Homo sapiens: one gene and its partner. The protein of the gene in region 1 purifies or fractionates together with the protein of each later gene. This does not show direct contact. Each region holds a gene or a part of one and is shown in the gene's direction. Other genes may lie near its edges.

Region 1 (5,228 bases):
ACAGATATACTATATTTGTATATAGATAAATGTATTGTTTCTTTTATGATTTGTGGATTTGTGGGTTTTTTAATGTTTGAGAAATCCTTCTCTGTCCTGATATGTAAAGATATAAAGATGTTCGTGTGTGTGTGTGTGTGTGTGTGTGTGTGTGTGTGTGTGTGTGTAGACTGGGGGTCTCGCTATGTTGCCCAGGCTGGTCTCAAACTCCTGGCCTCAAGCAGAGCCTAAGATGTTGTCTTTCAGTTCTTAAAGCCTTAAGGTTTACTTTTTGAATATGTTTGTGTGCAGTATGGTAAGGGAATTAAATTCATTTTTCCCCTTATGGAAAACTAGTCCTAGCCCCATGAATTGAGTAATTTGTCCCATTTTTTTTTTTTTACCATGAGTAATAGCATCTTTGTCATATATGCTTAGGTTTATTTCTGGGCTGTCTCTTTTATTCCAATTAGTTTATTTGCCTGTCTCTTTGCCAGTGGGGCAAGTTCCTCCTCACAGTCATCAAAATATGTATAGGTATTCTTCATAATAATTGTGTAGGTATTCTTCATAATAATTATATCAGCTTGTTGAGTTTCATTAAATAGTATTAGCTTGTCAAGTTTCATGAAGAACCTTGTTGGAATTTTGTTGGTAATAACATTGGATATATGGGTTTAATTTGGGGAGAATTGGCCACCTTTACCACATTGTCTTTCCATATGTGACATGTTATGTCTTTCCATTGAACATGGTATATCTTTCCATTGAAAATGGTATATATAGGTCCTTTTGTTTTCTTTTCTGTCTCTTAGTAGTCTTTATAATATTTTCCACAAAAATCTTACTAGTTTGTCTTAGCATTTTTTCTAGGTATTGGAGAAAATGCTTTGTTTATATTCTGAATGGAATCCTTTTAAAGATTTCAGTTACACTTAAAAATTATTGTCACTGGTGTGGAGGACTGCTGTTGATTTTTTTTTTTTTTCCTAATATTGATCTTTTAGTTGTGACTTTAGTCTGGGTACAGTGGCACATGCCTGTAACTCTAGCACTTTGGGAGGCTGAGGTGAGAGGATTGCTTGAGCCTAGAATTTTGAGACCAGCCTGGGTAACATAGTGAGACCCTGTCTTTATAAAAAGATAAAAAATTACCCAGGCATGGTGGTGCATGCTTATAATCTCAGCTACTTGGGAGGCTGAGGCAGGAGGATCACTTGAGCCTGGGAGATCAAGGCTACAGTGAGCCATGATTGTGCCACTGCATTCCAGCCTGGGTGAAAGAGTGGGACCCTGTCTCAAAAACAAACGAAGAAACTGTTAGTGACTTTACTGAACTTTTGATATTAATCAGGTGCCTTCGCAGCAGAGTCTCTTGGATTATACTGCCTTCATATTATTCAACAACTGAATAAAAAAACCTAATAAGACCAATTCTCTTGTGTAGAGAAGAGAAGGCATGGCTGATTTTGTATATTTGAGAAAGTGATGCTGGAAAGGTTATTTTTGAGTGAGTAGAAGGTAGTATTATCTTCAGAAGTTCAGTTACTTTTAGGGTTAGTACTTAAGCCCATTTGATTCTCAGGAAATGTGAGTCCATTTACTTCTAGCTTCTACCAAGGAGACTTGGAGTATGTTAGTGAATTTGATCATTTTAGAGTCAAGGAAGGGAAACAGATTAGGAAACAGAGGAAATGGAATAGTGCTGCCTTTATCTTCTTTCCAGCAATGGAAATAACCAGTTGCTCCTTTATAATATGTAAACTCTTATCTTTCTGGCAGGTAAAAGACTTCTTAGAGATGGTTACTATTTTATATGAGAAAATAGGTTGATTTGAGGAGAGTGATAATTGAGGAGGGACATAGTGGATGCAGACATGGAGATGAAAGAAAATATTTTGAAGAAAAATTTTTTTCTTTTTTTTTCCCCAAAGTGAGTAGCATATTTCACAGTGTCATTGTATGTATGATTACTCTTAACATTCTTTTTTATTCATTTATTTAATTTTATTTTTTTGACACAGGGCCTCACTATGTTGCACAGGCTGGTCTTGAATGCCTGGCCTCAAGTGATTCTCCTGCCTCAGCCTCCCAAAGTTTTGGGATTACAGGCATGAGCCACCGCACCCAGCCAGCTTTCAGCATTAGACTCTCTTAGAACTGACACTCCCTATAAACAAGTTAATGTGAGAACACTTTTAATTTAAAAATATTGAGTTCTAAATGAAGTATTCAGTATAATCCATTAATCTATTATTAACTTTTCAGTTCACACAAAAGATGTTGGACAATTTCTACAATTTTGCTTCATCATTTGCTGTCTCTCAGGCCCAGATGACACCAAGCCCATCTGAAATGTTCATTCCGGCAAATGTGGTTCTGAAATGGTATGAGGCATTTTCTGTCTCCAATATTAAGGCTTTTTATAACTGAATATCTATTTTGTCTATGAATATATTCCTTTTTTGACATTTAAACATATTCTTTTATTGTGAACATCAGCACTGCATGCCATTAAAGTATGTACTATAGAGATCTGATGAGAAACAGTTCTTACCCTAAATATTTTGTTATATTGTCGCCATTATGAATTTATAAAGACAGGAAAATATAGTTGCCTATGTTTTAGGGACCACTATTAAAGCTTATAAATATTTGTGTATTTTCATTTAGAAGTACCATCTATGAGAGTAGTTTATACTGCACTGTGTACATGAATGGCTAATGAATCTATTTTCCAACTTTCCCGTGTTTTATAGATATTTCTTTTCACTTTGAGTATCCTAGAGATGGGAGGATGCCTAGGAAGAGTTTGTTGAGAAGTGGTACCATGGTGTAGCATGGAGAGCATTGGAATGCACTAGGTTTGAATTTTGGCATAATGTAGCTATGTGACCCTGAGCAAATTTCTCTCATCTGCTCATCTGTGGAATGAGGAAATAGGAGTTGAATTTGATTTTTTTCCTTAGGTCCCTTCTAGGTCTTAAATTTGCAGAAGATAAACAATTACTAAAATTTCTTATGATTTGTGCTCTCTGATAAAAGCTAATCAAAACTGCCCCGATATTTAAATTCCTATGCTTGCTGTCTTTTTATAAGAATAATTACATTTCCAGATTATCTTTTTAGATTTTTTATAGCTTTTTAGAAATGACATGTAAAATTGTTTTGGATAAGTCATTTGGCAGTTAATGAAAGATCCTATTTTAATTTTCTTGTGAATGTAAATATATGTGTTTTCTTTTCTAGGTATGAAAACTTTCAAAGACGACTAGCACAGAACCCTCTCTTTTGGAAAACATAATTTGAATAAAATAATTTTTAATGGATTCTGAAATTTGTCATGTTTTGAAGATAACTGACTCCATCTAAAAGTATGAGGTCAAAGGATCACGAAACCTAAGTTTAAAAACTGCTTAGAGACTGAAGCTTAATTAAAAATCTTTATTAAAAATTAAAAACATTGAAAAATGAAAATATGTTCATCATTAAAGACTTTTTTCCCCTTAAGCTTAAAATACCATTCAAAGGCAAGACATTTTGTTTTGGCTATGATTCATTTTTTTTACTTAAAAATAAAACCTATACCAAACAGTAGTGTGCCAAGTACCATTGCATGTGTAATCATTCATTTATTGAAATGAAACAATGGTTTGCTGGAGTAGTTAACTTTTCAATTACCTATTTCAAAATTTGGGAGACTTGAAAAACATATGAAGTATACATTTTTAAATATGGAGAAATTATTTTCAGAGATTATTTCTTAAGATTGTCAGTTTTTCCAATTAATACAGGTTGGCTGTCACTTTTTATATCTGCAGATTCATATAAGTTTAATAAAATTGCCATATTGGTGAGCTTTTATTTAATACTGGTAGGCATTTATGTGTAGAATATAGGATTCTTCTTGTTAATGGATGGTTAGTAGTTCATTTTTTGTTGATTATAACAATACCCAAAACTGGGTAATTTATTGACTTAAATGTTTTTTTTTTTTTTAAGACGAAGTTTTGCTTTGTTGTCCCGGCTTTAGTGCAGTGGCGTGATCACAGCTTATTCCAGCCATGACCTCTTGGGCTCAAGTGCTCATCCTGCCCCAAGCTTTCCATGTAGCTGGGACTGCAGACGTGCACCCCCATACCCAGCTAATTTTTTTGATGTTTTTGCAGAGACACAGTCTTACTGTGTTGCCCAGACTAGGCTTGAACTCCTGGGCTCAAGCAATCCTACTTCAGCCTCCCAAAGTGCTGGGTTGGTAATTGATAAAGAAAAGGATTTTTTTTTTTTTCCTACAATGATGGAGACTGAGAATTCCAAGGCCAAGGGGCTGCAGCTGGTGAGAGGCTTCTTGCTGGTGGGGAGACTCTGAAGAGTCCTTAGGCAGTGCAGCGTATCACACAGTGAGGGGGCTGAGCATGCTTTTGTGCCAGCTGAGGTCACTCTTCCTCTTCTTATAAAGCCACCAGTTCCCCTCCTGTGATAACTTAACCTATGGGCAGAGCCCTCATGATCCAATCACCTCTTAAAGGCCGCACCTCTCAGTACTGCCACATTGGGATTAAAATTTCAACGTAATTTTGGAAGGGACAAATATTCAAACCATAGCAATTGTTGAATCATGAGACTTGGCAATGGCTACACAACAGTCTTTAATACTCTGCACAGAAAACATCAGCTAATTGCAATACAATTTCCAGAAGCAAAATGATTATTCATGTACTACAACTTGTATCTAGGACCTAGATTGCCAAACCCAAGCTGAAAAAACATCCTGAAGTTCAGTTGTGCCTCTTCTACAGTCAGGTAGCCTCTTCCCAGTGATTTTTGTAGTGATACAACAGGAAATACTAAGTAAACACAAACTATTCCTTGGTCTGCTAAGAAATCAAAAGAATATATGATTATTCATGATAATCTTGGGTTGTAGTGAATTTAAACTAGTTTCTTGGGCTTCCAGAGCAGATGATGGGAGTGAAATTTTGGGCCACATTTTCTAGTATTATTCTTACTTCTAGAATAGTATCTTGCACAGTATGCATAAGGAGTCATCACTTCTGGGAGCTTTCCTGAGTAGCCTATACCTGCCTTATTTTGGAAGTTTCTGGTTATTCTCGGAGACACGTGATATGCTGGAAAGAAAAGGGCTTTAAATATCTGAACATCTAACAATTATTCTATATATGCAAGGTAGGTTTGTGTACAGGAGGCAGGTAAAAACCTGGTGTTGACATAAATAATGCCGGCTGGGT
Region 2 (4,563 bases), on another chromosome or scaffold:
ATTCCATTTGGAGGTGGAGGAAATGAGGAGAAACTAGCAAAGGAGGCTGTAACCAAATAGCCGGTGAAGTGGAGGGGTCAGGAAAGCGCAGTGTCCTTGAAGCCAAGTGAAGAAAATGTTTCAGGAAGAAGGGCATGATCAACTGCATCAAATGTTGATAGGTCATGATCAACTGTATCAAATGTTAATGGGTCAAGGAAGATAAAGGCTGACAACTGATTATTGGATTTAGCAATATAAAGATGATTAATCTTGACAAAAGCAGTTTTGGGAGAGTCGTGATAGTGAGATCTTTATTGGGATGGGTTACAGAAAAATATTCAGAGTAATTAGAGTCAGCAAATACAAACACTTGCAAGGTTCTCCAACAGGCCCTGGGGCTACTACAGTGGGGTCAAAAGAGGACACAGGGTAGGAGCTTTGTGTTTTCCCAGAGCTCACAGTCAGTTACAGGGGAGGCAGAGGCAGTTAAGTAACCTACAATTACAGCTCAGTGTGGAGAACGTTGTTTTCAGAGAAATAAAAGGAATAGACAATTCTCTAGGCAGTAGCCTTTTCTTGTTCTAAAATTGGTGCTTAAGCTTTCTCGCAGGTTGAAAATGGAATAAGTAAGTTCAAAATGGGAAATGATCTCAGTCCACTTCTACTCAGTAGCCAGTTTGCTTCCTGTTCCTAGTTCTAGTTCCCTGAAATAGAAGAAACAAGTCTGGGGCTAGGACAAGATGAAGAGGCTCCTGAAGTGCAAATTTAAGGAGGCACTCACTCTCAAATTCAGGGTCAACACTTACATAAACCTGAGAATGAGTGCCTCCTTAAATTTTGTGCCCTAGAGCGGGGGTCCCAAACTCCCTGGGTCTGTGACCTGTTAGGAACTAGCCACACAGCAGGAGGTGAGTGAGCCTGCAGCCTTACCACCATGAGCTCTACCTCCTGTCAGATCAGCAGTGGCATTAGATTCTCAAAGAGCTCAAATGCTGTTGTGAACTGCGCATGTGAGGGATCTGGATTGGGTGCTCCTTATGAGAATCTAGCAAATGCCTGATGATCTGAGGTGGAACAGTTTTGAAAAATTGTCTTCCACAAACCTGGTCCCTGGTGCCAAAAAGGTTGAAGACCGCTGTCCTAGATGCTTAATTTGCCTCACCCTAGTCCTGGCCCTGAAGAGAAAACTTTGCATCTGTTCACCCCAAATATCCCCTGTGATAGGGGAAGGGAATGTGTACCTCTGCTTATTTTTCATTTGTAAATTTGGTGTCTTAATTATCCTATATGGGCTTTTTGGTTTTTTTGAGACAGGGTCTCGTTATGTTGCCCAAACTGGTCTCGAACTCTTGGCCTCAAGCAATCCTCCTGCCTCGTCTTACCAAAGCGCTGGGATGATAGGTATGAGCCCATGCTTGGCCTATATGGATTTTTTTTTTTTTTTTTTTTTGAGATGGAGCCTTGTTCTGTTGCCCAGGCTGGAGTGCAGTGGCATGATCTTGGCTCACTGAAACCTCCACCTTTCAGTTTCAAGCGATTCTCCTGCCTCAGCCCCCCAAGTAGCGGGACTACAGACATGTGCCACCACACCCGGCTAATTTTTGTATATTTAGTAGAGATGGGGTTTCACCATGTTGCCCAGGCTGGTCTCGAGCTCCTGACCTTGTGATCCACCCACCTCGGCCTCCCAAACTGCTGGGATTACAGACGTGAGCCATGACACCCAGCTCCTGTATGGACTTTTGAAGCTTGTTATTACTTGATAAACAGGAGCTAAGCAAAAAATGTTCTTTCTTCTGTTTTTTAAAATTGAGGTAAAAATTCATGTAAAGTTAACCATTTAAAATGGTACGATTCAGTGGCATTTAGTGTATTTGCAATGTTGTGCAACTAACACTTCTTTTTCAACACCCCAGAAAAACACACATAGCCATTAAGCAATCACTCCCTATTGCCCCCTCCTACTACTTCTTGATAATCTCCAGCTTAGTTTTCTGTATCTCAGTGGATTTGCCTGTTCTTTATTTATCCTATGAAAGGAATCATGCATTATGTGGCTTTTTGAGTCTGGCTTCTTTCACTTAGTATAATGTTTCTGAGGTTCATTCAAGTTGTAACATGTGTCAGCACTTTGTTCCTTTTTTATAACTCAGTAATATTCCATTGTGTGAATATACCACATTTTATTCATTCATTCATTGATGGACTGCTGGATTGTTTCTCCCTTTTGACTATTACAAACACTGCTGCTGTTAACATCTATATGCAAGTTTCTGCATGGACGTGTGTTTTTATTTCTTTGGGGTGTATAACTAGGAGTTGAATTGCTGAGTCATTTAGTAATCGTATGTTTAACTTTTTGAGAAACCACCAAACTGTTTTTCACAGTGGCTGCTTATTACATTCCCACCAGCAATGTCCAAGGGGTCCCATTTTTCTACATCGTTGACAATACTTGTTATTTTCTATTAAAAAATTATTATTAAAGACATCCTAGTCTGTGTGAAATGGTATCTCATCGTGGTTTTGGTTTGCATTTCACATGCCAGTGGTTAGCCATTTGTATATCTTCTTTGGAAAAATATCTGTTTAATTTCTTTTCCCATTTTTAAATTAGGTTATCTTTTTGTTGAGTTGTAAGTGAGTTATAGATTCCTTGTATATTCTGGATATTAAGCCCTTATCAGATAACTGTTTTGCAAATATTTTCTTCCATTCTATACATTGTTTTCACATCCTTGATAATGCTGTTTGAGGCCTCAGAGTTTTTAAACAATAAACAATATTTGGACTCATGAGTTTCCATCATTGTGTTTTGTTGGCTAGGAGACAGCTGTTGCAATCCCTTAAGCATGGGTGCTATTAAAAAAATGGTGGAGAAGAAAATACCTGGAATTTACGTCTTATCTTTAGAGATTGGGAAGACCCTGATGGAGGTAAGGCGCTTCACAGCTGTTCCTTTGAAGGGTTGCTGACTGATTTCATAGCATATACTGTTAAAATGCTTTGCCTTGTGTTTTCAGCAGCAGATCATACAGTGATACTTTCACCCTTGAGTGGCTCATGTGAGGATACCAACCTAAATGAGTTTACCTCTTAGAGAAGATGTCAGTGGTTGTTTTCAGTCCCATCCTCTCACTTCTCTCTGGCTTCTTTTTTAGGACGTGGAGAACAGCTTCTTCTTGAATGTCAATTCCCAAGTAACAACAGTGTGTCAGGCACTTGCTAAGGATCCTAAATTGCAGCAAGGCTACAATGCTATGGGATTCTCCCAGGGAGGCCAATTTCTGTACGTTCCTTTTTGTTATATTGTACCACTTATATGGAATTGATTTTTGTTTCTTTTATTCAGATAAATCCACTCCTCCAATTCAAGATTGTCACCTATCTTGGAAGGGAAATTTCCTAAAATGTTCCTGTGTAAGAAGCTTTATGGAACTTAATTTCTTTTCTTTTTTTTTTTTTTTTGAGACAGAATTTCTCTCTTGTTGCCCAGGCTGGAGTGCAGTGGCGCGATCTCAGCTCACTGCAACCTCCACGTCCCAGGTTCAAGTGATTCTCCTGCCTCAGCCTCCCGAGTAGCTGGGACTATAGGTGCTCACCACCACACCTAGCTAATTTTTTGTATTTTTAGTAGAGATGGGGTTTTACCATGTTGTCTAGGCTGGTCTCGAACTCCTGACCTCAGGTAGTCCACCCACCTCAGCCTCCCAAAGTGCTGAGATTACAGGTGTGAGCCACCATGCCTGGCTGGAGCTTAATTTATTTTCTATGAAAGTTGAAAGAAATATTTGCATTTGCCCATATCAGGAAAATCCTGAAACTCTGCGGGTTTGGGGAGTCACAGAGGATGACTAGCTTAATCTGTGATGCTGATTGTGGATGATACATTTCCATCTGACAGTCGGAGCTAAAACTCCCTTTTATTCCGTAGGAGGGCAGTGGCTCAGAGATGCCCTTCACCTCCCATGATCAATCTGATCTCGGTTGGGGGACAACATCAAGGTAACTTTGCCTCTTTGCTTTCTTTTTTCTGTATTCTAACCCACATGACCACCTGATTTAAAAAAAAATCTAGGAACTATATTTGCACAAGACATCAGCCATTCTTGCAAAATCCTGTTTCTCTAGCTTTTAACAAACTAGCCAGCATTGCTGGAGACATAGGAAGAGACTTAGGATTCCAGAGGCCTGGATCACTAGGTTGGCATCTACTTCTCTCCAATTTCATTGACACGATTGCATGGAAGTAAGATGGTTATAGCCACGTGGCAGGTGGTGGTTGAGGAGTTAGGAAAATTGAGTGACCTTTTCTGTTCTCTGATTTGGTGGTATCCTCTTGAATTTAGGCTTAGGCAAAGAATAGTGTGTAAGCTCTTGTGTCTATAAATTTAAACTCTTTGAGAAACAGCAGGTTTTCTATTTTGACGGAATTCCATACTATTGGGGAAGGATGTGTCATTAGAATGGAATTTCATCTCTGTTGTTGATGGGTATAGCTATTAGCTGGTATAATGTGGGAGCAGAATGATTCTCCGTGTAATCAGGAAACCTGGACTCACCCAATTAACTATTACTCCT

The links. Proteins that work in one complex are often made in the same cells at the same time.
Region 2: the proteins of HIKESHI (region 1) and PPT1 purify together in Homo sapiens (co-immunoprecipitation; one large-scale study listed by IntAct). This does not show direct contact.

The regions. Positions count from the first base shown.
Region 1 is NC_000011.10:86,342,356-86,347,583, forward strand, and holds the end of HIKESHI (protein Hikeshi), read left to right. Parts: intron 1-2,247; coding exon 2,248-2,366; exon of another isoform or gene 2,367-2,738; coding exon of another isoform or gene 2,739-2,739; exon of another isoform or gene 2,740-3,228; coding exon 3,229-3,283; 3' UTR 3,284-3,588; downstream 3,589-5,228. UniProt on the Homo sapiens protein: Acts as a specific nuclear import carrier for HSP70 proteins following heat-shock stress: acts by mediating the nucleoporin-dependent translocation of ATP-bound HSP70 proteins into the nucleus.
Region 2 is NC_000001.11:40,090,753-40,095,315, reverse strand, and holds part of PPT1 (palmitoyl-protein thioesterase 1 isoform 1 precursor), read left to right. Parts: intron 1-2,808; coding exon 2,809-2,918; intron 2,919-3,143; coding exon 3,144-3,271; intron 3,272-3,916; coding exon 3,917-3,987; intron 3,988-4,563. UniProt on the Homo sapiens protein: Has thioesterase activity against fatty acid thioesters with 14 -18 carbons, including palmitoyl-CoA, S-palmitoyl-N-acetylcysteamine, and palmitoylated proteins. In contrast to PPT2, PPT1 can hydrolyze palmitoylated proteins and palmitoylcysteine.